Regions from separate parts of the Homo sapiens genome. Here all the other regions are linked to region 2. The links come from fine-mapping of genetic effects on gene expression. Tissue or cell type: whole blood. Region 2 holds a variant in brackets; each other region holds the start of a gene. All regions are shown on one strand. Distances are from middle to middle.

Region 1 (8,109 bases), 240 kb after region 2:
TGTTCTGAGCCTTTCTGTTAAATTCTTGAATACACAATGGGGTCAGAATATCCTCAGGGTCAAAATAACCTGCTGCAGGTTTAAAGTAGTTAATAATTTCCCCAAGGTTCAATACCTGATAAATACAAAACTTAGACCAAAACCACAGTATAGTTCTTTCCTCTTTACACTGTATTTCTCAGTTGAAGCCACAGTTCTATATTTCCCCTCCTCAAAGTTATTTCTATCTAATCCTATTGTAGCCCAAGGATATAATCTTAAAATAACAAAAATTCATGTAGATGGATGTTTATTGCATTGTTTATATATTTTAGACAACATGAATGTGCAAGAATGAGACAGTAAAATAAATTATATGGACAAACATATAAACTTAATAACTACTTTAAACAATCATGTACAATGATATTTATTACCATGTTAATATGTTCACAATAATGGATGTAATAATTATAAAACATACATGATCCCATTTCTTTAAAAAAATGTATCTGTATAAATATACATATCATCCAGGCACAGTGGCTCAAATCTGTAATCCCAGCACTTTGGGAGGCAAAGATGGGCAGATCACTTTAAGTCAGGAGTTCGAGACCAGCCTGGCCAACATGGTGAAACCCCATCTCTACCAAAAATACAAAAATTAGCTGGGGTGGCTCATATGGTTTGCCTGTGTCCGACCCAAATCTTGTCTTGAATTCTAGCTCCCATAATCCCCATGTGTCATGGGAGGGACCCAGTGGGAGGTAATTGAATCATGGGGGCAGGTTTTTCCTGTGCTGTTCTCGTGGTAGTGAAAAAGTCTCACGAGGTCTGATGGTTCTATAAAGGGGAGTTTCTGTACACAAGCTCTCTTACTTGCCGCTATGTAAGACGTGACTTTTCTCCTCCTTCGCCTTCCACAATGATTGTGAGGCCTACCCAGCCATGCGAAACTATTGAGTCCATGAAACCTCTTTTTCTTCATAAATTACCCAGTCTCTGGCATGTCCTTATAGCAGTGTGAGAACAGATTAATACAGTGGTGCACACCTGTAGTCCCAGCTACTTGGGAGGCTGAAGCAGGAGAATCGCTTGAACCCAGGAGGTGGAGGTTGCAGTAAGCCAAGACTGCTCCACTGCACTCCAGCCTGGGTGCCACAGCAAGACTCCATCTCAAAAATAAATAAATAAATAATTATACATATATATGTAATCTGATAGGATTAATGCTAAAAAGTTGATAATTATAAATTTGGGTGGGAGGATCATGTTTTAGGGAATCTGTACTTATCACTCTTCTATAATAAACATAGATTGCTGTGTAAAAGTATTTTAGGGTATTTCTATAAACAAATTTACTTCATATACAAGAGTCATAAAGAAAAAACTGTGAATCCCTTTAATAATAATGGCGTTAAAGGAAAGCACCAAAATGTCATGATATATTTATACAGTTATGTTTCTAGGTTTATCATTTGATCTATAGTATATTTGAATCCATTTAACATCAGAGTCCCACTGAAACAACTTGCTTGGCTCCATCTGTAAAAACACTACAATAATCTTTATTGAAAACTCTCTGCAGTAGATATCCTTGTTAACCTCTTTGCTCTTAAAACCAAGAGACAGTAATTTTAATGGAAGTATAAAGAGATATAAAGAATTTACAATTATAGATACTTATACTATCTGACAGCACAGGATAAAAAGCAGTGGGTTTGGGTTGAGTTTATCTGCTTGTTTTGTTTTTAACATAAATGACCTATTTTCCTTCTGCTTATCAGGCTTAACAAAGGTCCTCTCTTGAGAGCAAACGACAATTCCAGCCTCTCCTGCTCCTTCTCTGTATGAACTTTCACAAAATAAGCCACTGAATGCTTACTAGGTACAAAGTGTTGGCAGGCACCAAACGAATATATAGATAAACAAAACAAATACTCCAGGAGAAATAACAGCAGTATATAACTTAAATATATTATTTATGAACTTTGTTGTTCTTTTTTCAAACTATTAGGAAGCAATGTCAATTACAGAGAGAGGAGATAATCAGTTACTGGTCACATGTATGAATGCAGCTGAGAGCATCATCCCAACATAAGATGTAATCCATTATGGCCTATTGCTATTTGTAGTTTTACACTTGTCCATGTATGATCTCTGATTCAAAATGGGACACTTCCATCTTGATAGCCTTACTCTCAGGCCTCAGAGTAGCCAAAAGTGTGCTGTCCATTTACCTGGCTCACAACTGCTCTTACTCAAGTCCAGATCTCTGGTGGGTTCCCAGCTGCATTCAGTTACAGTTCTCACACCCTCAAAAAATACCTCTTTTTGGTCTGATCCTGCCAGAGTAAATGACTGATTTAAAGAAGATAGTATGTTCTCTGTAATATGTCCATGACTCTCACATTTGAAGCAAAGCCTATACTTTGATTTACTGGCTATAACAAAATTTGAGGACATTTACAACTTATCTACCAATACGTATATAATACAGACTTTAAAAACTCACACCCACATGTGTTTTTACAATCAACATGTATTATCCATGTACAAAGAACAATTGTTTTTTAAAAAGTTCAAGTCAATTCACTCGGCTAAATCTGCCTACCCAGATAGTCTGAACAGTCCTGAATCTAAACAAACTTGGTTTCATGTCTTCTAAAGGCAAGGAAACAGAATAATTCTCAAATAGCTAAAACTGTACATACTAAGAATAAAAAAGCTAACTTTTATTGAGCATTAATATGTGCCACAGATTATATTAATTAATAAATCCTCACAACAACCATAATAGATATATTCTTCTTATCCTTTTACAGTTAAGAAAACTAGGACACAAAGTTAAGTAACCTACCCTCAACGACCCATGGTTAGATAGTGGATAAGTGGATTCCAACCCAAATTGTTTAACTCCAAAACCCAACCTATAGTTTATGCTATACTTCCACCTTTGACCTCTGCCTTCTAGGGCAAAGGAGCAAAAAACAAATAAAGAACACACAAAAAATGTAAAAAACAAATGAATAAACAGCCCAGAAGTGAGAGTAATTGAGAAAAAGCAAAAAAAAAAAAAAAAACAAAAAGTAAAATTTGAAATTGCAACACTATGGTGGGGGACGGGGGTGGTGTATGTCTTCAATGAATAAAACGAAATACGTGGGACCTAAATATGCTTTTTTTTTTTTTTTTTTTGAGATGGAGTCTTGCTCTGTCGCCCAGGCCGGAGTGCAGTGGCTCCGGTCACTCCAAGCTCCGCCTCCCGGGTTCACGCCATTCTTCTGCCTCAGCCTCCGGAGTAGCTGGGATTACTGGCGCCCGCCACCACGCCCGGCTAATTTTTCTGTATTTTCTTTTTAGTAGACACGGGGGTTTCACCGTGTTAGCCAGGATGGTCTCGATCTCCTGACCCCGTGATCCGCCCGCCTCAGCCTCCCAAAGTGCTGGGATTACAGGCGTGAGCCACCGCGCCCGGCCCATATGCTCATTTCTTAGCAAGGAAAACTGGGGGTTGCGGGGAAAATGCAAGAGGACAACGAAACCTACAATTTCATAGTGAAAACCTGTTATTCCAAGCAGCACTGACATTGACAAAATCTTGTCTGGAATCACTTCACCATTCAAGGGTAGCAACAACAGATATCCTTTCCTTAACCATCACAGTAACTCTAACTCCACCAACACACAAGAAAAAGAATTCCTAAAACCAGCTCAAGTAGAGCCAAAAAATACTGAGCTTAGAAATCAAAGCATGTGATTCTAGCATAGTAATTAGTTGTGTGTTCTCCAGCGAATCACTTTTCCCTTCTGGGTTTCAATTACCTCATTTGTAGAGGCAAGTGTTTTAACTAAATTAAGGTGTAACTGTCAGCTCTAAGAATTACGTGAAACTTTAAGGAAAACTCCTGTAAAACTTGGAAAGGCTCGGGGATGCATTTAAAACACCGTGAACTATGGGTTCTTTGGCAAGAATGTTCCCTTCTAAGCCGCCACAAGCCCTGGCTAGAACATGACACAGACCGGCTTCCAGGCCCTTGAGGCTCAGAGAGCAAGGTCAAATCCAGCTTTCAATAATTCCATAGGGCTGAGGCATTAACCTCTACGAGTATTATAACCTAAGTCAGAATTCTGGGGGTAAAGGCAGCGGCAGGGGAAGGAGAAATCACTCTTCTAGGTCATCAGAAACCTTAGTCCAGACCCCTCGGGTTGCAGAATCAGGCACAGAGAGGGCGAGCGCCTTGCCCCCACGTTACACAGCAGTTAGCGCCGAGGTCGGGACTAGAACCTCAATCTTTCAGCTCCCCGCTCGGCAAACGGTCCTTCCAAGCGCAGCGAAGCAACAGAGAGGAGGGGCGGGGGCGCGCGGGGACCCGGCACGGAGCGCAGGGGCACCAGGGAGGACAGGGGCGCACCCCGAGTTACCTGTGTCGGCCCCCGAGCCGGCGTGCAACAGTCTGACCTCCGGCCGCTGCCTGTCGCCACCCGGCCTGCGCTGCACCACCTGCCGCAGGAGCAGCCGCATGCGCCGCGAGGCCGGGCCGCCGTGGCCTCCGGGTGCCCCGAGGAGTAGAAGCCGGGATTGCATGGCGCCGGGGGGGCTGTCGGGGACGGCGAGGGGGCTCGGGGATCGAGCGGCGTCCCGTGCAGGCACCGTGAGGCAGCGCGGAGAAGGGGACAGGAAGCGGCACCTAGCCGAGTCCGCCGGAAACTCCTTCCCCCGCGGCGCGGCCGGCTCAGTAGACTCAGCCCGGCCCTACCCGGCCCTGCATGGCCCAGACGGGCGGAAAGAGCCTGCGGAGCTCCAGCCCAAAGAGCCGGCACCGTCCCGGGACTGCCCGCACCGCGGGGGTGCTCCGAGCTGCGGCGCTGGGCTCTGGCAAGCGCCTCGCAGTCCGTGAGACTGTCTGTTCACCTGGATGCACCAGGCCTTCACCCGCCGTTTCCCTGCGATCCCACAGAATCTCAGGAGTTCAGTAAATGCCAAGGGTTTTAGGAGCATTTGTCGGTGTGACTCTTCAGATGCTTGCCCCAAGTCTTCGTTTCTTAGTTAAAGGCCCAGTAAGTATAGGGAGCTTTCCCTGTATTCGGCTTCAGATTTCGGAAATGGAGAAAACATGCACAAGATGATGGGAACTTTCACAACTGTCTTGATTCATTGTAACCACACTAGTGTTTCCAAACCGTACGTGAAAGCTTTACCCTTTGTCCTTTTGGTGGTGGTTGTTTGTTTCTGTGTTTTATTACCGCTTCCTAAATTCTAAGGAAAAAATTCACATCTTAGTGATAGATGGAAATTGCTTAAATATCAGAAAGGATCCAGATCAAGCACTTTTCTAGTCATGCTGTAATACAAAAGTTATATAAAGATGATTTATGTCTTTAGTAAAGGAAAAAGTAGGACACTGGCTAAGGCTGCCTCCCTCTTGTACATTCCAACATCGGAAATGGTCCTACCACAAAGCAAACTAAGCCTAATGTAATTAGACTGCATCCCCAAAATGTCACAGTGAATTGACTAAGGCAAAATATTTGAGACAAGTTATACAAGCAAACATCAAAAAGAAGGCAGAAGACCTCACTTTCAGCTAAAGACCTTGCTAATTCTAGAGCTGCCACTGTCTAAATACATAGCACCTACCCTGCGCCTGACCCTGTGATGAGTGCTGAGAAGAGAGTGTTAGAGTGGAGACTGTAAAAGTCAAACAAGGCTAGGTAAGGAAGGCTTTGGGCATCCAGCGGAAGAACTTGAGGAATGAAGGCTGAACCAGGCTTCTAACCTAGATGAGGAGACAGTGAAAATAAAGGTAATAAGTAGTTACACAATATATTATGACTTCGTTTCATGTGTATCTTCTCATTTAATCCTCATAGCAACCCTAAGACATAAATTTAGGATGTAAGCTTATAAAATGCTTTTCCTACTTTGAGCACATTGTATGTATCAAGATTTTAATGAATTATCCCATTTCACATAAAAATGCTTTGAGGTACTATTATTATCCTCCGTTTTACAGATGAAGAAACTGAGGCTAGAAGAATTGAATACCTTGGTCAAGATATCTCCATTTAATCTCGCTGGAACTCAGTAGACACCTGAAAGAATGGGAGAACAACCTAAGGCAATTTTGCAAAGTGGTTGATATAAGCACTAAGAGCTCTTGGAGTTAAGACAATGGAGAGATCAACACAAGTTAGAGCATTCAACAACATTTTTTGCCTAGTTTTATTTTTTTTAGAGACAAAGTCTCACTCTGTTGCCCAGGCTGGGGTGCAGCGGCAGTATTATAGCTCATTGCAACCTCGAACTCCTGGGCTCGAGTGATCCTCCTGCTTCAGCCTCCCTAGTAGCTGAGACTACAGGCGTGCACCACTGTGCCTGGCTAATTTTTGTGTTTTTGTTTTCGTAGCAGTGGAGTCTTGTTATGTTGCCCAGGCTGGTCTCAAGCTCCTGGCCTCAAGTGATCCTCCTGCCTCAGCCTCCCAACGACAACATTTATTGAGTAACTGCTGTATAAACAGTACCCTGCTAGATACTGTGAATCAATGGGCTCACATTAGGTATTGATGATAAATATGCAAATAAAGAATTGCAATACAGTGAGACACGTGTCAAGAGATTTAGGTTCAACATACTGTGGAGTGGATTGCTGCACCTGGAGTCTTCACAGAGAAGGTAGTGTTTGAAATGATTCATGTAGGATATATTATACAAGAGTTTGTCAGGCTGAGACAAGTCAAATCTGGCAGACAGATCATGTACAGAGAGAGAGAGAAAGAAACAGCTGAAAGTGCAGGGCATGATTGAGAACCAGAGAGTGATTCAGTGTGTCTAGAGGTCAAGTATATACAACAGTTTGTAAGAATAAGACCAGAAAGAGAATCTGGGGCCATGTTGTATGCCAAGAGAAGGAGTTTGCACATTAACCTCCAGGAAATGGAAAAATGGTGAAGGTTTTTTAGAGTGACAAAGCTACAATGGGGAGGAAAACTTTGAGCCTGAGAAAAGGCAGCACCTGAGCTTAACTTTGAATGCCATTTAGGACTGGATACACAGAGAAGCGGGGTATAGAGCCTAAGTAGAGGCTTGGAGTCCTGACAGAGTTCAGTTACAGGGGCCATGAGACCAGCCAGATGAGGAGGTTAATCTTTCGAAAGTAGTAGAAGGTGTTGGCAGAGCAGGAGGAGAAGGTTACAGAGTGAAGAATCTTGAGTAGCTGGATGAAGTTGGACTTCATCCGATGAGCAAACTGGGCAGCTACTGGACTTTTTGATCGTGTTTTAGGTGGTGACATACTATGAATTGAATTAGGAAGACAGGAAGCATCAAGTGCTAGCTACGTGGCAGTAAAAATAGTCTCTACTTGAAATGATGAACAGTGCTGATGGCAATGAGACTGAATGGGAAAGAATGGACCTTCACAATGTTTTTAAAGAAGAACCAAAGGTGTTTTGTTTTAAAAGATGTTCATCACAATCTGTGTAAAGTCTCTCAAACTCTCACTAAAATATCTGATCACATGCTTATTAAAAAACAAGCTACCAGCCGGGCACAGTGGCTCAAACCTATAATCCCAGCACTTTGGGAGGCTGAGATGGGTGGATCACCTGAGGTCAGGAGTTGAGACCAGCCTGGCCAACATGGCAATACCCCATCTCTACTAAAAATACAAAAATTAGCCAGGCGTGATGGTGGGTGCCTGTAATCCCAGCTACTCGGGAGGCAGGGGCAGGAGAATCGCTTGAACCCGGGAAGCAGAGGTTGCAGTGAGCTGAGATCGCACCAGTGCATTCCAGCCCGGGCAACAGAGTGAGACTCTGTCTCAAAAAAAAAAAAAAAAAGAAAAAAGAAAATCACACTACCAAAAGCTAGTATTGACTGTCAAGCTCTTTCCAGAGTTTGGGAGGAATATTTTTTACATACCACATTAATGTAACTTGATGAAAAATGCAACTAATAATCCTTCCATGCTATGTCTGACTGAAAAAAGGTGGGTGCTCCACTCCTCCCTACTGTCTACCCCAGCTAAGAAATCAAAGGTTCATACCACTGGTTCCCAGACTTTTGTGTGCATCCTAATTACCTGGAGAACTTATTAAAATGCAGATTATAGGGTTTCGTTCCTCCCT
Region 2 (8,109 bases):
TGTGATTACCATCAACAGTACACTACTTGGGGGGCAGGGGTGGAAAGGGGGAATGAAAAGTGTTAGTATCACATATTTTTATGTTTGTTTTTGCAGATGAGATAAACATTAAGATTATATTAAAATTCAAAGGATGTTAGAATAGAAAGGAACCTTACTGATGATCCACAATGAAGATAATTGCATATTCTGGCCTGGCCAGGGCAGTCTTATTTTACACTCTTTTTACAGAATTATTGTCAATAGCTCCCCCTGCCTTTCTCAAAAATGTCCTGATTTAGATGGTAAATCAAATATTTTTAAAAATAATTTCTCCCAGTGTACTTCCTTAATATTTTTAAATATTTGAATATTTAAATATTCAAATATTTTAAAATATTTTTAAAAATCAAATAGATATGCTATGTATAAGAAAAGGCCCTCTGTACCAATAGAGAATTAGTTAAGTAACTTCTCTAAATTCAAATGACCAAAATGGAATGGTGAGCTCTTTGAGGGCAGGATTCTGTCTTGTCATCTGTTTCTCCATGGCTGATCCAGGTAGACAGGTGAACATATGACTAACTGCTAAATTCCCAGGCCATTACTTTGTTCACTTTGTCATCCTACTCTCTCTAAGTACAAGGCTGATAATTTGATAGAAATTGCTACACTTTGTCATCCTACTCTCTCTAAGTACAAGGCTGATAATTTGATAGAAATTGCTACGGAACCTGTGAATTTCAAGAAGGGCAATAAAACAACACTACTTTTGAGCAGCCTAAGTTATTGCAATTAACAGATGAGGAAAAAATTGCTCTGAATGACTGTGGAAATTATAGCCTACTCTGATCTCCTTCTAAAAGGAAAATTCACTCTTCCTTCACATCTGCTTAAGTCTATTTCTAGCTATATGCGGTTGGGGGACAACTAGTTGTTTCTATCCCCTTGTAATGCAAGAGTGTGACCAACTTGTTTCCAGGCTCAAAGTACTTCTGCTTCTACTCAAAAGTACTAGAGTTAGAATTAACTTGCCATAGCAATAATTTTTCTGTTTAGAACTGAGGATGACAATGAATAAGTTAAACCATTTTTAGTTTCTTCCTTAGAAACTAAAATTGCTTTATAAGTAAAAATTTTATCATGATTAACCTTACCAATTAATATGTATTTTAATTTTTATTTATAGTCATGCAAGAGTAGAAAAAGAAATTGTTTTAAAATCATGAGCTTAGTTTCCATAAAGCCAGTACTCTAATTATATAAATTTGTTAATGGTAATAAAAGCCATCTTATTTCCAGCTAAAAATAAAGGGAGTTTACAAAAACGAAGTAAATAACTTAAGTTTGCATATTAAAGAAAATTTATAATAGAAAGTTTGCATATTAAAGAGGATCTCTTGAACTCTCTTATACAGACAATTTGTTATACCCATTAAATTACTGACCTAGTTTCAAATGCCCATAAGGACTGCTAATCCATCAGTAAAATAGCATTGTGCCAAAAAAAAGTGTGCATTTGCAACTGCCACCCAGTCATTCTTCTGGAAAATAATTTACTTATTCATTAATAATATAAACCAATGCACGGATAATATAATTTCTAAGATAAGTCCATCTTATTCTTTTAACACAGAAGGGAAATATTTGTTTCTCTTTTAGAAATTCCTGATACTTTAATAATTTATTTCTATTGGCATATATCCTGACAAGTTTTTATAATGACTTCAAAGAATCAATAAATATGGATGAGTATACACTTTGGAGATTATATATATATATATATGCAACTTTTTTTGCTAATCACTGATTTATATTTAATATATAATCAGTGATTTATATTTATATTTAACACATTTTTTTCTACAGAAAGATAGTGTCTCCTTTTGGGGCTAAAATTGAACAGTAATTTAAAAGTGATTATTATCCCCTATGAATTTATAATTAACTATTTTTATAGACAAAGATGGTATTAGATGCATTATCAATAAGTTAGGCATATTGAAAACTATTTTCTAGTGAATTTGTGCTGACTTAATTACTCTACTAAAAAACTCTGTCAATTACTTTTCTGATCAACACCATATGTGCAAGATTCTTAACTAACATTAAGTAGTAGCCTATGATTATAAAATAAAGGGTAGGCAACTAGCTCACATGAAATAAACCCACTAGTTCTTACTACCTCTTTCATCTATGAAGCTGACATAAGTAACCAAAAATCTCTCTAGTTAACATGATCATAAATTTAGAAAATTATCATAAAGAAAACTATATAGTAACAGAAATAAGAACATATCAACTAAATGTACATTATCTCTATGTGATTTTCATGCTCGTACAATGATGTGCACTGGATTATACGAAATAGTAATACGCATAGTAATTCAACAAAAGGACTGAGACTGTTAAAGAAACAAATATTTCCCTTTATTTATTACATCTACTCATGGGACATACATAATAATCAAAATTTTCAATTTACAGGCCTATAAATAATGCTATTTAACTGAAAAGCAGCCAGCAAACAGCAACATATACATGTATTTGAAAAGCTTACTCATGGAAAGTAATTTCCATAGCAACTCAGTTTTGTAGAATGGAATGATAAATCAAGAACTATCAGCATTTAAGAATCAGAAGAGTACTGAATTTGCCTTACTCCTTTGCCAGCTGCACACTGGTAGGCTTTGCTCCGATAGGTATCCCGTATTTGTGTAAAGTGTTAATCAATATCTCCCTCATGTCATTGTTGTAGGAATCAAAGTCAAACACATTTCGAACTACACTGGAGAGACCTTCAGTCGGAAATTTCTGTATTAAAAAAAAATTCCCTTATTATGCATGTGATAAAATATACAACATTATAAAGATTTATGAAATGGATAGGACAATAATGATCAAATGAACTACAGCAGAAATTTACTGGCCTTGTCAAATAAGCAGGTAGTAGGAATGTAGACATTTTTCCCTTTCAGTGTTTGCTCAGATGACTTAACAATATTTTCCTTTTTAAATAAATGCCAGAATTTGAGGGGAAAGAGTTCCTCCTCTCAAATGTTAGAGCAGTGCCTAGATCCTGGTGTCAGTGATTGCCACTGCTTTCTGAAATCTCCTGCCTTTAATATGAGTACCAGATCGAACAGTTTAAAAATGCTAGTTATGTAAAGGAGCGTGTTAAATATCTATACTGAAGTTTTCAGAAAAGTCAGTCTATGAATAAATGAAGAAGAAAAGATAAAGCAACAAGAAAAGAAGGAAAGAACATAAAAAGTGCAAACAACAGAGAAACAGGGAGCAGTAGAGGGCAAGAAAACAAGTATGACTACAACTGAATTTACACTGCTCATGTCCTCTGAGTCCTTTCCTGGGTCTGCTTTGATTTTCTTTAGGTGATGGGTTCTGAGCTGGCTGAATTGGACTTACGGTTTTATAGGCAGAACAAAGCTGTTATTTTTAATCTTGATTTCTTTCCATATATTTTTAATTGACAAATAATAACTGTATATATTTATGGGGTACAATGTGATATTCCAATGTATGTATGCCTTACAGAATGGTTAAATCACACTAATTAATATATCTATCATTTAACACACCTTTATTTATGGTACAACCATTACTTAAAATCTACTTTCTCAGCAATTTCAAAATATACATTACATTGATATTAACTATAGTTACCAGGCTGTGCAATAGATCTCAAAAACTTATTTCTCCTGTCTAACTGGAACTTTGTATCCTTGGATCAACATCTTCCCCTGTGTGTATTCTCCCTGCCCCACCTTTCTACTTTTCTTTCTAGGGTTTTCTTGGAGGGTTGGGGATAAGGCAGAGGTCAAGAGTTGTTGGGTTGTGACTGTTAGCTTGGAGACCCTTATTTGTTCTGTAAGTAAGATTTATATTATTTTTTATTTGTTTGTTTTCTTTACTAAGGTGGAGTACACATTGTACATGGTCGCAGGAAATTTCATTCTCCTGCCTACTCTATCTTGTGAAACTTCCTTGCGGTATTTACAGGTATTTAATCAGTACGGTTAGTTCCTACTCTGTTTACTGTTGTCTCCATGTGATTTG[C/T]TTCAAAATGAAAATATTTTTTACCTGCATACCACATGCTTGTTGTAAAAAGCCAAAGAACAGAACAGGAAGGTTTCCCCACTGACTCACTCTCTTGCTTCACCTGCCCTCTAACAGCCTCCCACCAAATTTCCTAACTCCTTGGTAATGATTACAGACTTTGCCAAAGTTAATTCAAAAGCTGAACAGATAATAATGTTCATTGGCCTACCATATTTATAACTTAGATTATACACATTTCAAATCATGTAATCTGACTCATTATTGTATTTATGGAAATTAAAAACTCTGGTACAAACTGTACAGTCTGAAAAAATAAAAAAGAGAGTGATGGCTCTTAGGTACAGGTGTGTGCCATACCTACCTGTAAATGTTTGACTATGTTGACAACTTCTCTGGTAGAATAAGGATAGTTAATAATCCCTTGGTCAGCCAAACTCCTCAGCTCTCCAAAGGCAGCCACAAGCTTCTGAAGGATGGGCTCAGGCACATTTGGTCCATACTGTCTGAGCATCTCGAGCTCCGAGTGGGGTTTGGGGTTATCAACTGCATGGCAGCTAAAAATATCACCTAAAGGAGAGAAAAGATTCACATTCAGTATGCAACAAATCCATTACGATGTCACAGGAAAAAATGGAATGGTTGTTTAAAGAGCCACTGGTTGCTCATCAAAGCATAGAAAGCCCATCCAACAATAGGATGGTACAGAGAAGAAAGCAAAAGACTGAAGCAAAAGAAAAGAAAACTGGGTGATGGATGGTTTATCTCCACGAATTTATTTTTGTTAAAAAACTTACATAATACTTGAATACATGCTCACCGGGAGATATTCCAATACAAAGAGGAAAAAAAATTCTCCTTTAAGTCTATGCCAATGCCACTCCCTCCCCAAAAAGCACTGAGTCTTAATGTTTAGCGCATTTATTTTTCCAGACCTGTATTAGCACTTTTTTTAAAAAAATGCATACATGCAAACAGAGTTTAGATAATTTATTCCTTTTCTATTAATGGGAATATATATTTCAAATGGTTCTGAGACGGCCTTTTTAACTTCAACAAATGTTGAGTATCTTCAAAAATTATATACATCTATCTCATATAAATGCTTCTTTATGTACTAAAAAAGGGAGAATTAGTAGCATCACTCTCTAAAAAATTTGTATCTTGTGCAGATTGATAGAATATACTTTAGAGGTTAGTTTTGGTAGAGTAAACCTGTAGAGACATTGTCTGAATTAAAATCAAGAAAAGGAATGTAGAAACATAATAATATTTCATCTGTAATTTAGGGAAATGAGAATGTACTAGAAAAATAATTCTATTGATTCATAATCTAAGAGACCAGGGATCAAATGAAGTAAAAGTAAATAGACTTACATTATTTAATATGTTCATTTTAGAAAATGAGGATATCTAGTAAGGTAGCAATAAGATCTTACTTTGATTTAGGAACCATTTGAACAGTTATTTTGTATGTGTGTATTTAAAAGCAATTGAATAAAATGAAAGCCATGATATCTTCAAAATTTTATCTCATATACTAAAGCTTTTCAAATACAAAGGTGAAGAATGGCTTTTGCCTTTTTTGCTGAAAATAAAACCTATCACTAACATAAAAAGACAATTGACCCCTCATTCATTTACTCATCAAATAATGATTAATTAGGACAGTAGAAATGGTGATGCTGGGGGAGGTCAGTCAGGTAAACCTCATGAGAAGGTAATATCTGAGCAAATGTTGATACCTGGGGGAAGAGCATTCCAGGCAGCTGGTACAGCTAATCCAAAGAACTTAAGGCAGGCATACCTGGCATATGGAAGGAAGAGGCAGGAGAGCAGAGTGGATGGAATAGAGGAAGTGGATAGAGCAGCACCAAGCAGTACAGGACACGAGGTTACAGACATAGGAGGATGTGGGAGACATACTGTGTAGGACACTGCAAACTGTTGTAAATACTTGTACCTCTACTCAGAATACAATGGGAAGCCATGGAGGATTTTAGCAGAGGCGTGGACTACTGTGCTGTGAACACACCACAAAAGGGTGTAGGAAGATAAATATCTTGTGAGCAGAGGCACTGACCACATTGACTGTATTTCCAAGAATATCTGAAGAGCAAACAGTGCAGCCTTGGAAAACATATTCTCTCTCTCTGTCTCTCTCTCTTTCTTTCTTTGTAAGAAGGTAATTTGGGTTACCTAAGCTCTGGGTTCCTCTTCTATAAGGCATCTCACTATAAGTGCAGGTATCATTTGGCCCTCTTTCTGTTGCCCTGTGGGAAGTGGGGCTTGAGGAACCAACACAAATGCTGGTACTTTGACTACTGCTTTTGCTGAATAATCATTCCTCTTTTGTCTGTGACTCAGGAGTCTAGTGTCTTCTGCCATGAAAGCCTTCTGTGGCAGGCTAACTTGTTAGCTTAAAAGTAGAGTAAACTCTTAGATCTTTCACAGTTCATAACAAAGAATAAGGCTGGAAGCAGGGCGACCCATTAGGGGACTATTTGAAGTAATCCAGGTAAGAGACGATGGTGGCTCAGATCATAATGGTGGCAAATGGAAGTGATGGGGAAAGTAAGATAATTCTGAATATATTTCGAGGGTATAGCCAATAAGATTGCAGGATATTTGGAAAAGAGCATAAGAGAAAGAGAGAAACAAAAAATGAATTTGGAGTTGTCATTAACAGAGATTTACAAAAGACTATAAATTAATCAGGTTTAAGAAAAAAAAGTTCATCATGGACATGTTAAATTCGAGATACAGGAGCTATTGAACTGGAAGCTGGATATGAGTGTGAAGTTCAGGAGGAAGGTCTGGGTTGGAGATGAATATTTGGCAATAACAGGCATATAATTGGTAGTCTAAAACATGACACATTCTGATTTTATTAAAGGAATGAGTATAGATAGGTAAGAGAACCAGGGCCTGAGCCTTGGGACATTCTAACAAGCTCCAACAAATAAGGCTGAGCAGGAATAGTTATTAAGGTAAGAAACCAAGAACATACTTGAAGAAGTATTGTAAGTCAAGTGAAGGAAAATGCATCAAGGAGAAGAGAGTGACTAACTGTATCAACTATATACTATATTAAATACTGCTGGTAGATTCAGTACGATGAGGACTAAGAATCAACCACTGGATTTAGCAATAGAAAAGTCACTAATGACCTAGATAAGAACAGTTTCTGTGGAGTAATGGGAGCAAAAATCTGATTAGAATGGAATTAAGTGAGGATGGTACAGAAGAAACGGAGATAGCAAGTGTAGACAACTCTTTTGAGTACAAATGACTGTGAGGAATTTTGTTACAAAGGAGAAGAAAAAAGTAGCAATAGATCGCAAAAAGAGTAAGATTAAGAGGTTTGTGTGTGTGTGTGTTTTGAAGATGAAGGAAATAGCCTGATTGCAGATGGGAATAATGTAAGGAGAGGGAAGCTGCTGATACAGGAGAGGGAGGGCAGAACAGCTAGAGCAGCAACCTTCAAAAGGCGGGATCTGGTGCTCATCTGGAGGGACTCCCTCTAGATGGGAATGTGAACAGTTTACCTGCAACAAGTGGGAAAGCAGGGCATCATAGGTGGAAGACTTGGTTGTAGGAGTCTGTGGACATTTGTTTTTAATTGCTTTCGTTTTTCTCAGTGCAGTAGGAAGACAGGAGAAAATAACAGAAATCTAAAAGAAAGTCAGTAAACTGAATCCTGGTTAGCAATGGGGAAGGAATGAGACTGGTGGGAAAATGAAAGAGAATTTCCCTTTCCCCTCCATAAGCCCTTCTATATTTCAATCTCTTGCAGTAAGTGAATGTTCAAGTATTGTATAATTTTAAAACAAAAAGAAATTCATGCAGCAGTGTTGGAGCTGCGAGGAGAGAGAAGATATGAATTACCCTAGGAGAACAGGAAAGTGAAAGGTCTACCGAAGCACGGTGTGACTGCATTTAGGGACACTTGAGGCCCATTGTTAAGAATCTGAAATGAGATTGGTCAGTTTTGGGCTTTTTCTAACCACATTCAGCTGCACATGTGTAGGTTCAATGTTGTTAGAGAGTTGG
Region 3 (8,109 bases), 330 kb after region 2:
ATGCAGTTAATATCACAGTTAATCCCCAAATCTTTTTCATTCAGGTAACAACTAAGGAAATGGTAATAGGTTAAAAGTTTCGAATGTTAAATTCTTAATATGTAGCAAATAGCGTGTTCTTAAGTTTTAATTAAGGCAGCTTCTCAATGCCTGTACTTGGTCAACCTGCAGTATTCTTTGCATGGTTCCTTATTGATTAGGAACACAAGTCCTAGAACACTTTGAACTCTTCAGGATATAAAATGTAACATTCTGCGTATTTATGGCGTAATATTTAAGATAAAGCCATAGAATATGTGAGATTTGAAAGTTGCCAATGGGTATAAAACCCCTTTTGTTATGAGTAGTGATCAGTAAAAATACAATTCAAAATACCTCTGTAGAAAATAATACACGAATATTCATAAAGTTGACATGAAATTTGGCTGTGACTTACACATCTTCAGTCTAATAGGTGTTCTTTGTTTTAATGGGCCAGGATCTCTATTAAGTAAAAACCTAATTTAGGGGTAGCTACCACCTATTTCCATTTCACCCTAAATGCAGTGTCTACACAGCTTATGTTGAAGTCTTTAATAGTGTGTTTGTCACATGTTCTGAACAGAGATTTCAAAGTAACAATAAAAATGTAAGATGCATCTAAGCAATTACTGAAAAATCTGAAATCACTAAGTAAGGAAAAGATCAAGGAATTCTTATAAATCAAATAAATAATGTAAGATACCACATATTTGAAATTGTTTCAGTTGCTATTTTGAGCTACATGGTTGAAATGGTTGGAAAGATTGAGACCTTGACCTTGTAATACTCTTGAGGAAGGTGAAGTACATTGCAGGTACACAGTGCACAAATTAGATATTCATTCTAAAAACTTCTAATTTACAGATAAGACCGAGAAGAGGCTAGTAAGTCAGGTATCTTAAATAATGGATTCGTTGAAACTGGCTCTTCAGAAGAGGTGATTGCAGAAGTGCAAAGCTGGCTCTGAGGTTAAATCTTTATGAGAAAGGAATACCTTTACTTTGAGGTATTAAATGGCTCAGCTCTGGGATATGAAACTTTTTAAGTATCTTTAAGCAATCAGTGTTCAAATCAAAGAGTGAGATGCGTAATCTGACCTGTTAAAATCACAAAATCAGGCTGGGCATTAGATAATGCCTTTCAGTTTAATCACTCGCTGCCTGGATTCTGGAAAATGTTGCTATATAAAACACATAATGTATGAATAGAAGTATATGGTAACTGACAGACTTTTGTTATACAGTGTGATAAAGTGAATAGAACATTAGAATACTAACCGCATGATTTTGACTTTGGTCTCAGTTTGTCAGTTGGGGCCTTAGTTTCTTTACATTAAAGGAGAAGACTAAACTAAGTTTATTCTTTCAAAAGACCCTTTACTAGGTGTCCTTGTCTACATTTCCAAAATATTGGACTTGTCCATGACCAAACAGGTGGGAATGAAGGCCATTATTTTGATTATTTTTCTCTTTTAAGAATTTCCAGAAATATGTTCTTTGTAGATAAAGAATTACATATTTGTAGAGTTCTAAGCGTTCTTAAAATTCATTTTGCCCAACTCCTTCCTTTCCTAAAGGAGACAACAGAAGCTGCAGAAATAGCCTCTCTGTTATTATTACATAGCAGCAGTCTCCTGTCTTTAAATATTTGAACTAAACACATTTTACATTTTAATGAATTTAATTTACAGTGTGATGTCCAGTATTGGGATTGCATACTATTTCTTAAAACTTCTTAGAACTGTTAGCTCTAATATATCAAATTTCTTGTTGGGAGTAAGACTGCAAGTTAAAAAAAAAAATTAGAACCTTAGTTTGGAGGAACCTTAAAGGTCATGTCAACTGAAAAAATACGAAAGGAATGGTACTGAAAGGCATGAACATAACAGAGATTGAATGCTTTCTCCAGGTGGAGAGACTCCACAGTCTGGCAGGGACTTTTTGTCCTATTTAAAAATATAGCTAACACCAGTTTGGTGTTCTCTTTGGATGACAAGAGGGATCTGTCGTTTTAATGTCTTCTCTCGCAGCCCCCTCACCGCAGCCCCCTCACACCTGTGAGGCTTCTTTGACGTTGAGCGTGCACAACCCGCTGCCAGTCCGCGGTTCCCAAGTGCCCGCGCAGCCAGCTTGCAGGGGAGTTGTGCGCGGTGGCTACAGCCTGTTGATCCCACTTCCTCCTGCTCTAGTCCGGGCTAGGGAGTGGCTCTGCCAGGACTTCCAAGGCTTTTTGTCTCGGGTACTGGTGTTCGCATGGCTCGAGTGTATTGTTTTCTTCCAGGCAATCTCGGTTAGCGCTTCAGCTTAGACACTTCTTGTGCGTTCTGTCGTCTTGGGCTGCGTGTAGTCTCTTGTTTCTGCGCTTTCTCCACGCCCTTCCCAGTTTCCTGTTAGCCGAAGGGGATCGCTCTTTCTGAACGAAAAGTTCTCAGAGCGGAGCTGAACCTCCCGGAAAATGCTCTTCTCTTCCGTGTGCGCCGGATGGGGGTGGGGGTGGGCCAGAAACTGAACGCCGCCGTCAGGAGAGCTGAGGGGACCCGACGGCCCTGGCGGAGGCGGGAGAGGTACGGTCCTCGGAGTGGGGCTGGGGGTGGGGAAACCGACGAGGGGCAGCCCCCGACTGTCTTGGTGGCAGAGGGGACTTTTATTCAGCTGGAACCGCGCGGCGAGGCCCAAGTGTCTCTGGAGAGATTCGGGGTTCAGGAGGTGGCGGGTGCACCCAAGGGTGCTGGGAGGAAGCTCCAGGTTCCCATTCTTCCCCAGGGATCGGCGTTGCCCCTGCTGTCCAGAAGTGAGAGGGGGTGTGCGGGCATCGCCACTACGGGGTGGGCTGCAGAGGTTTCCTGCCTCCCCCACCCTCCTGTCCATCCTAGGGACCCAGACCGTAAGGGAGTGGAAGAGATGTTGCTCCAAACCCTGTCACCCCATCCTCTCTACCCGCGCTGGTCCTATCCGAGGCTGGGTGCGCAGGGGTCCGAGGCGGGCGGGGGTCCGTTACCTCTGCGTCCCACCGTGGCCGCCGCTCCGGCGGGAACCGAGCGGAGGAGCCGGGTGGACCCCTGCCTGGAGGGCGCCTGCCCCGGGCGACCCTTACCTCGCGGGGGTAGCTAGGGAAACGGAAGATGGCGGCGGCGGCCGGGCACGGGGTTCCGGGCTCCGCTCGGGCAGAGCCCACCCGCTGACCAACGCCGCCGCCCCCGCCGGGCGGTGCTGTGTCCCCGCAGGAGTCGGAGAGGATGGCAGGGGCCGGAGGCCAGCACCACCCTCCGGGCGCCGCTGGAGGAGCGGCCGCCGGAGCCGGCGCCGCGGTCACCTCCGCCGCTGCCTCGGCGGGGCCGGGAGAGGATTCGTCTGACAGCGAAGCGGAGCAAGAGGGACCCCAGAAACTGATCCGCAAAGTGTCTACCTCGGGGCAGATCCGGACCAAGGTAGGGCGGAGGAGGCGGGCCTGAGGGCCGCGTGGAAAGCGGGAGGTGGAGAGGGCGCGGGGGCGCTGGAACGCGCCGGGCGATCCCGGGAAGGCGGGGAAGGCGGGGAAGGCGGGGAAGGCGGGGAAGGCGGGGAAGGCGGGGAAGGCGGGGAAGGCGGGGAAGGCGGGGATGGTGAGACGGTGAGGCGGGGCGGGGCCTGGGGCGCGGGCGGGGCGGGGAGGGGTGGGGCGGGGCCCGGGGGCGCTGGACCGCGGTGCTGCGGGACGGATTCCCGGCGGCTGCGCGGGAGGCTGCGAGCCTGGGCTCCCAGGGAGTTCGACTGGCAGAGGCGGGTGCAGGGAACCCGCGGCTCGGCGGGAGCGTGGGAAAAAGCTGACGCGCAGTCGCGAGTTCCTACTTAGGGAACTTAAAAGGAGAGTTTCAATTTTTCTTCCCTGCCGTTCGGGGGAGCGTGCGCATGTGCTGGCCAACCAGCCTGCGCTGCAGTGAGCCCTGCTGCTTTCCCACTTAGGCCCACTCAGAGGGTGGGTGGAAGGTGACACCGGTCAGCCTTTCCTGCCCCTCTGCCTCCTGCTGCGGTCTGGAAGGCAGAAGCCCCGAGGCAGGCAAGTGGGACATGGTGTTCGCGGCTTAACCGCACCCTGCATGGCTCCAAGGGCTGGCCAGGCTTTCGTGTCGCAGGTTCCCGCCAAGTGCAGGCAGGGTTCAGAACCATGCGTCCATGGTTCTTTTTAATAATGAGAAGTTACCTCTGTGCTGTGTGGACATTAGGATGGTGTGTTACTCTTGTTAATGAAGCTTGTGCTGTCGACCTGTGAGGTCTCAAAGTTAATTTTTAATTTGATCATGAACATACCAAAGCAAATGCTTATGGATATTAAAGGATTTTTATGTATTCTAATTTTCATTGTAATTTAAAAATCTTCACAGAGAGAGTCTGTTATCAGTAGGGAAATTTAACGAGGATATTGAAAACGGAACCACAAAATCATTGGCTTGGGGTACCGTTTTTAAAAATAAATTTGCAAAAAATTCATTCTACAGTTATTTTTATGAAAAATTTTCCCTAAGGTCAATGAACTCCTATTTGGAAACATAATTTTTATTCAGTGCCTGTGGAGGCCGGTAACGGTGGCTCATGCCTGTAATCCCAGCACTTTGGGAGGCCAAGGCAGGCAGATCACTTGAGGCCAGGAGTTCCAGACCAGCCTGGCCAACATGGTGAAACCCCATGTCTATTAAAAATAAAAAAATTAGCTGGGCTTTGAGGCGTGCACCTGAGATCCCAGCTCCTCGGGAGGCTGAGGCAGGAGAATCGTTTGAACCCGGGAGGCGGAGGTTGTGGCGAGCAGAGATTGTGCCACTGCACTCCAGCCTGAGCGACAAAAAAAAAGCTAGTGGATTAATGTTTGTAGTAGCCTGCCTCCTTATTTTCTGAAATACATGTGTGTAAGAACAACACACAAGAACAACTGTTGACAAGATGCACTTACTAAAGAGTTAGGGATTCAGTCACTTTAGTTAAGAGTACATCTTGTAACTCCTTTTAATAGTGACGTTTTTGAGTTTGTAGTAAATTAAGAATATGGCATTTAATGTGTTTTTTAAGATTAAGGCTTTTACAAAGTTAGGGACTTTCCTAAAAGTGTTTTTAATATTTCAAATCTTAATTCTGAAAAAAGTTCATAAACTGTGTTAATGATGGGCAAAATGGCAGGTAAAAAAAAAAATTGTATAGGGGCCGGGCATGGTGGCTCACGCCTGTAATCCCTGCACTTTGGGAGAACAAGGTACCTGAGGATCACTTGAGCCCAGGAGTTCAAGGCTGCAGTGAACTGAGATCTTGCCATTGCACTCCAACCTGGGCAATGAAGCGAGACTGTCTCTTAAACAAACAAGCAAACAAACAAACAAACGTGTATGTTACATATTTATATGAAATGGTCAAAATTCCATGCATACTTATATCAGGATTAACCAGTAGATTTATACTGTTCGAAAGAAAACTGAGAGATGGCTCTAAATTGAATTGAATCATGTCAAACAACAAATTTGTTGGGAGTACCACTGTATTTTATAGGTTTCATGCGCTCGTTGTAATAGCTAAGATTATATGCTTATGGAGACTACAAGTAAATTTAAAAAGCACATTATTTGTGATTTTCTATCTGACTTTCTAATAAAAACATTTAGCACATACATTTTGCCATGAGAGATCATTTTTGACTATGAAATCAAATATTGCTTGAATTTCAAAAGTGTATTGAATGTCAGAAATTCAGCATTTTACAATTTCTCCTATGTTAGAGTGCATGTAAGTTCATCAACATTTTCATATATGAACACTTGAGATCAGGGTATAAGATTCTGAGACCAGTGAGCTTCAACCTCATACCCCGCCTCCTGCAACTGGACTGTTCATGTATGTCACAGACTTCATTATTTACGTCTTTTATCACATATACTGATTCTTGGGGAAGAAAGTGAGAGCAATAGGGGGAATTTATAGAATGAGAACTACTAAATTTAACGTTGGTTCCCAGTCTTCAATTATGATTCAGATGAGAATTAAGGAAGGATCTTTAGAAAAAGACAAATACTTTCTGTGTCTCCGCACAGGTGTGTAAGATGGGAGCACCTGGAGGAGAGGTAGGCCCTAAGATTAGCTCAAAGCCATCTTTTTTTTTTTTTTTTTTTTTTTTTTTTTTGAGATGGAGTTTCACTCTTGTTGCCCAGGCTGGAGTGCAATGGTGTGATCTCGGCTCACTGCAGCCTCCACCTCCCAGGTTCAAGCGATTCTCCTGCCCCTGCCTCAGCCTCCCGAGTAGCTGGGATTACAGGCATGCGCCACCACACCCAGCTAATTTTTTATTTTTAGTAAAGATGGGGTTTCTCCATGTTGGTCAGGCTGGTCTCGAACTCCCGACCTCAGGTGATCTGCCCACCTTGGCTTCCCAAAGTGCTAGGATTACAGGGGTGAGCCACGGCCTCAGCCCCAGTCATTTTTAAGACAGCACAAGCAGTTCTTGCTCATCTATCCTGCTTTGTCAGTAGGTCAAAACTGGTCAAATATGGAATGCTTCATATGGTTCAATCTAATATGTCATCATTTAACCAGTTTTTTGCAGAAGTAAATATGGGTTGTTTTAGGACAATGCACTAATCTCAGCTTTTTCATAGTGGATTTGATGGTTTTTAAGTAAAGAATGGAACTGGTATGCTTTTGAAATCAGTGTGGCTTAATAAAATCCTCATGTGTATTTTAGCACCCTCATCATAACTCCATACAGTATACTTTTTGTTCCCCTTTTCATTTTCCATTTATTCCTGGTTTCTTTGTATGTCTATGCTGTCCTCTCTACTATTTTCCTCTTCCTCTGTTTTGAACTTTTTCCTTTCTCTGAATAACCTAAGTGGAATTTCAGGTGGTCTCATCTAGCCACTCAGGTGCTAAACACTAAATGATTTTATGCCTGCCTTTATTTCCCAAAGACAAAAAGTCACTTATGTACAAAAGTGAAAGTGGTGCTGATGCAGGAAAGCCAAAATGGAGTCCTAACACTTGTCATATCTCTTCCCCCTCTTTACCTTCTTGAGTTTTTGGATTTGCATTCAGACATACTGTTGTAGAGAATTTCACAGGTATTTACTGAGAATAAGATATTTTTGAAACAACGCTAATACAGATTCAGACAAATTGGGTTTTGAGGATGAATGTGAAAGAAGCTTTGTGTGTTTTTTGTTGGCCCATGAATACTGCAACCTTTCATTTTATGGGAATGGCTGGAAGAAACTTGGTCAGGCTTACAGCCTAGGATTGTTCAACAATCATAAACCAAACAGTATAAACAAATGGGAACCATCTCAATGACTTTTTCTGCCTTTGGGTCATCTCGGCTAAGGTTGTGAAGCTGCATGTGTCAAAAATACTCCTGATGAGGTTTATTGTGTTCTCATTTATTTTTTATTTTTTGACATTTATATGTCTTCTTACAGCTAATGGCCACAAATGAGTCTCTAAATTTAGGTAAAACATACCTAAACACTAAAAAGATATTCAGAATTTTGCATCAACATTTTATCTAGGCTGAGGGCGGTGGCTTATGCCTATAATCCTACCACTTTGAGAGGCCAAGGTAGGACAATCAGTTGAACCCAAGAATTCAAGACTAGCTTGGGCAACAGTGAGACTCCATCTCAAAGAAAAAAACAAACCCAAAAGAAGACCAAAAAACACACCAGTATTCTATCTGGATTAAGATATATTTTTGGTGCAGCAAACCACCATGGCACATGTATACCTATGTAACAAACCTGCAGGTTCTGCACATGTAACCCAGAATTTAAAGTAAAATAAAAAAAAAATCTTACTACTACTACTAATTATATATATAACTATATATATAACTATATATAACTATATATGTAACTGTATATATATAACTATATATGTAACTCTATATGTAGCTATATATAACTATATATATAACTATATATAACTATATGTATAACTATATAACTATATGTATAGAACTGTAACTATACATAACTATATATAACTATATATGTATATATATAACTATATATGTATATATATAACTATATATGTATATATATAACTATATATATGTATATATATAACTATATATGTATATATA

Alleles and levels. Alleles are on the strand shown, and positions count from the first base shown. SD is a standard deviation of normalised expression in the study named.
With allele T in place of C in region 2, the expression in whole blood of the gene that starts at base 4,661 in region 1 is higher (small effect, 0.30 SD a copy in GTEx).
For the expression in whole blood of the gene that starts at base 3,131 in region 3, allele T in region 2 goes with a higher level than allele C (small effect, 0.25 SD a copy in GTEx).

The links. PIP is the estimated chance that this variant, and not a neighbour inherited with it, causes the effect.
Region 1: VWA8 starts here. The variant in region 2 is fine-mapped to the expression of VWA8 in whole blood (GTEx, PIP above 0.99).
Region 3: it holds the start of DGKH, and the variant in region 2 is fine-mapped to the expression of DGKH in whole blood (GTEx, PIP above 0.99).

The regions. Positions count from the first base shown.
Region 1 is chr13:41,956,449-41,964,557 of GRCh38, forward strand. VWA8 (von Willebrand factor A domain containing 8) reads right to left here and starts at 4,661. Exons shown (of 45, transcript NM_015058.2): 1 at 4,405-4,661. The coding sequence starts at 4,567. It overlaps VWA8-AS1 (VWA8 antisense RNA 1), which reads left to right and starts at 4,721. Exons shown (of 4, transcript NR_039974.1): 1 at 4,721-5,786. RefSeq lists enhancers at 2,894-3,394, 3,395-3,895, 3,991-4,130 and a silencer at 4,331-4,740.
Region 2 is chr13:41,716,950-41,725,058 of GRCh38, forward strand. It overlaps VWA8 (von Willebrand factor A domain containing 8), which reads right to left. Exons shown (of 45, transcript NM_015058.2): 25 at 4,421-4,626; 26 at 2,642-2,793. Among named protein-coding and RNA genes, the nearest start is that of MIR5006, 150 kb to the left of the region's middle. The variant C/T (reference allele first, on the strand shown) is at 4,057.
Region 3 is chr13:42,045,518-42,053,626 of GRCh38, forward strand. DGKH (diacylglycerol kinase eta) reads left to right here and starts at 3,131. Exons shown (of 30, transcript NM_178009.5): 1 at 3,131-3,448. The coding sequence starts at 3,257. RefSeq lists an enhancer at 2,278-2,367 and a silencer at 2,908-3,437.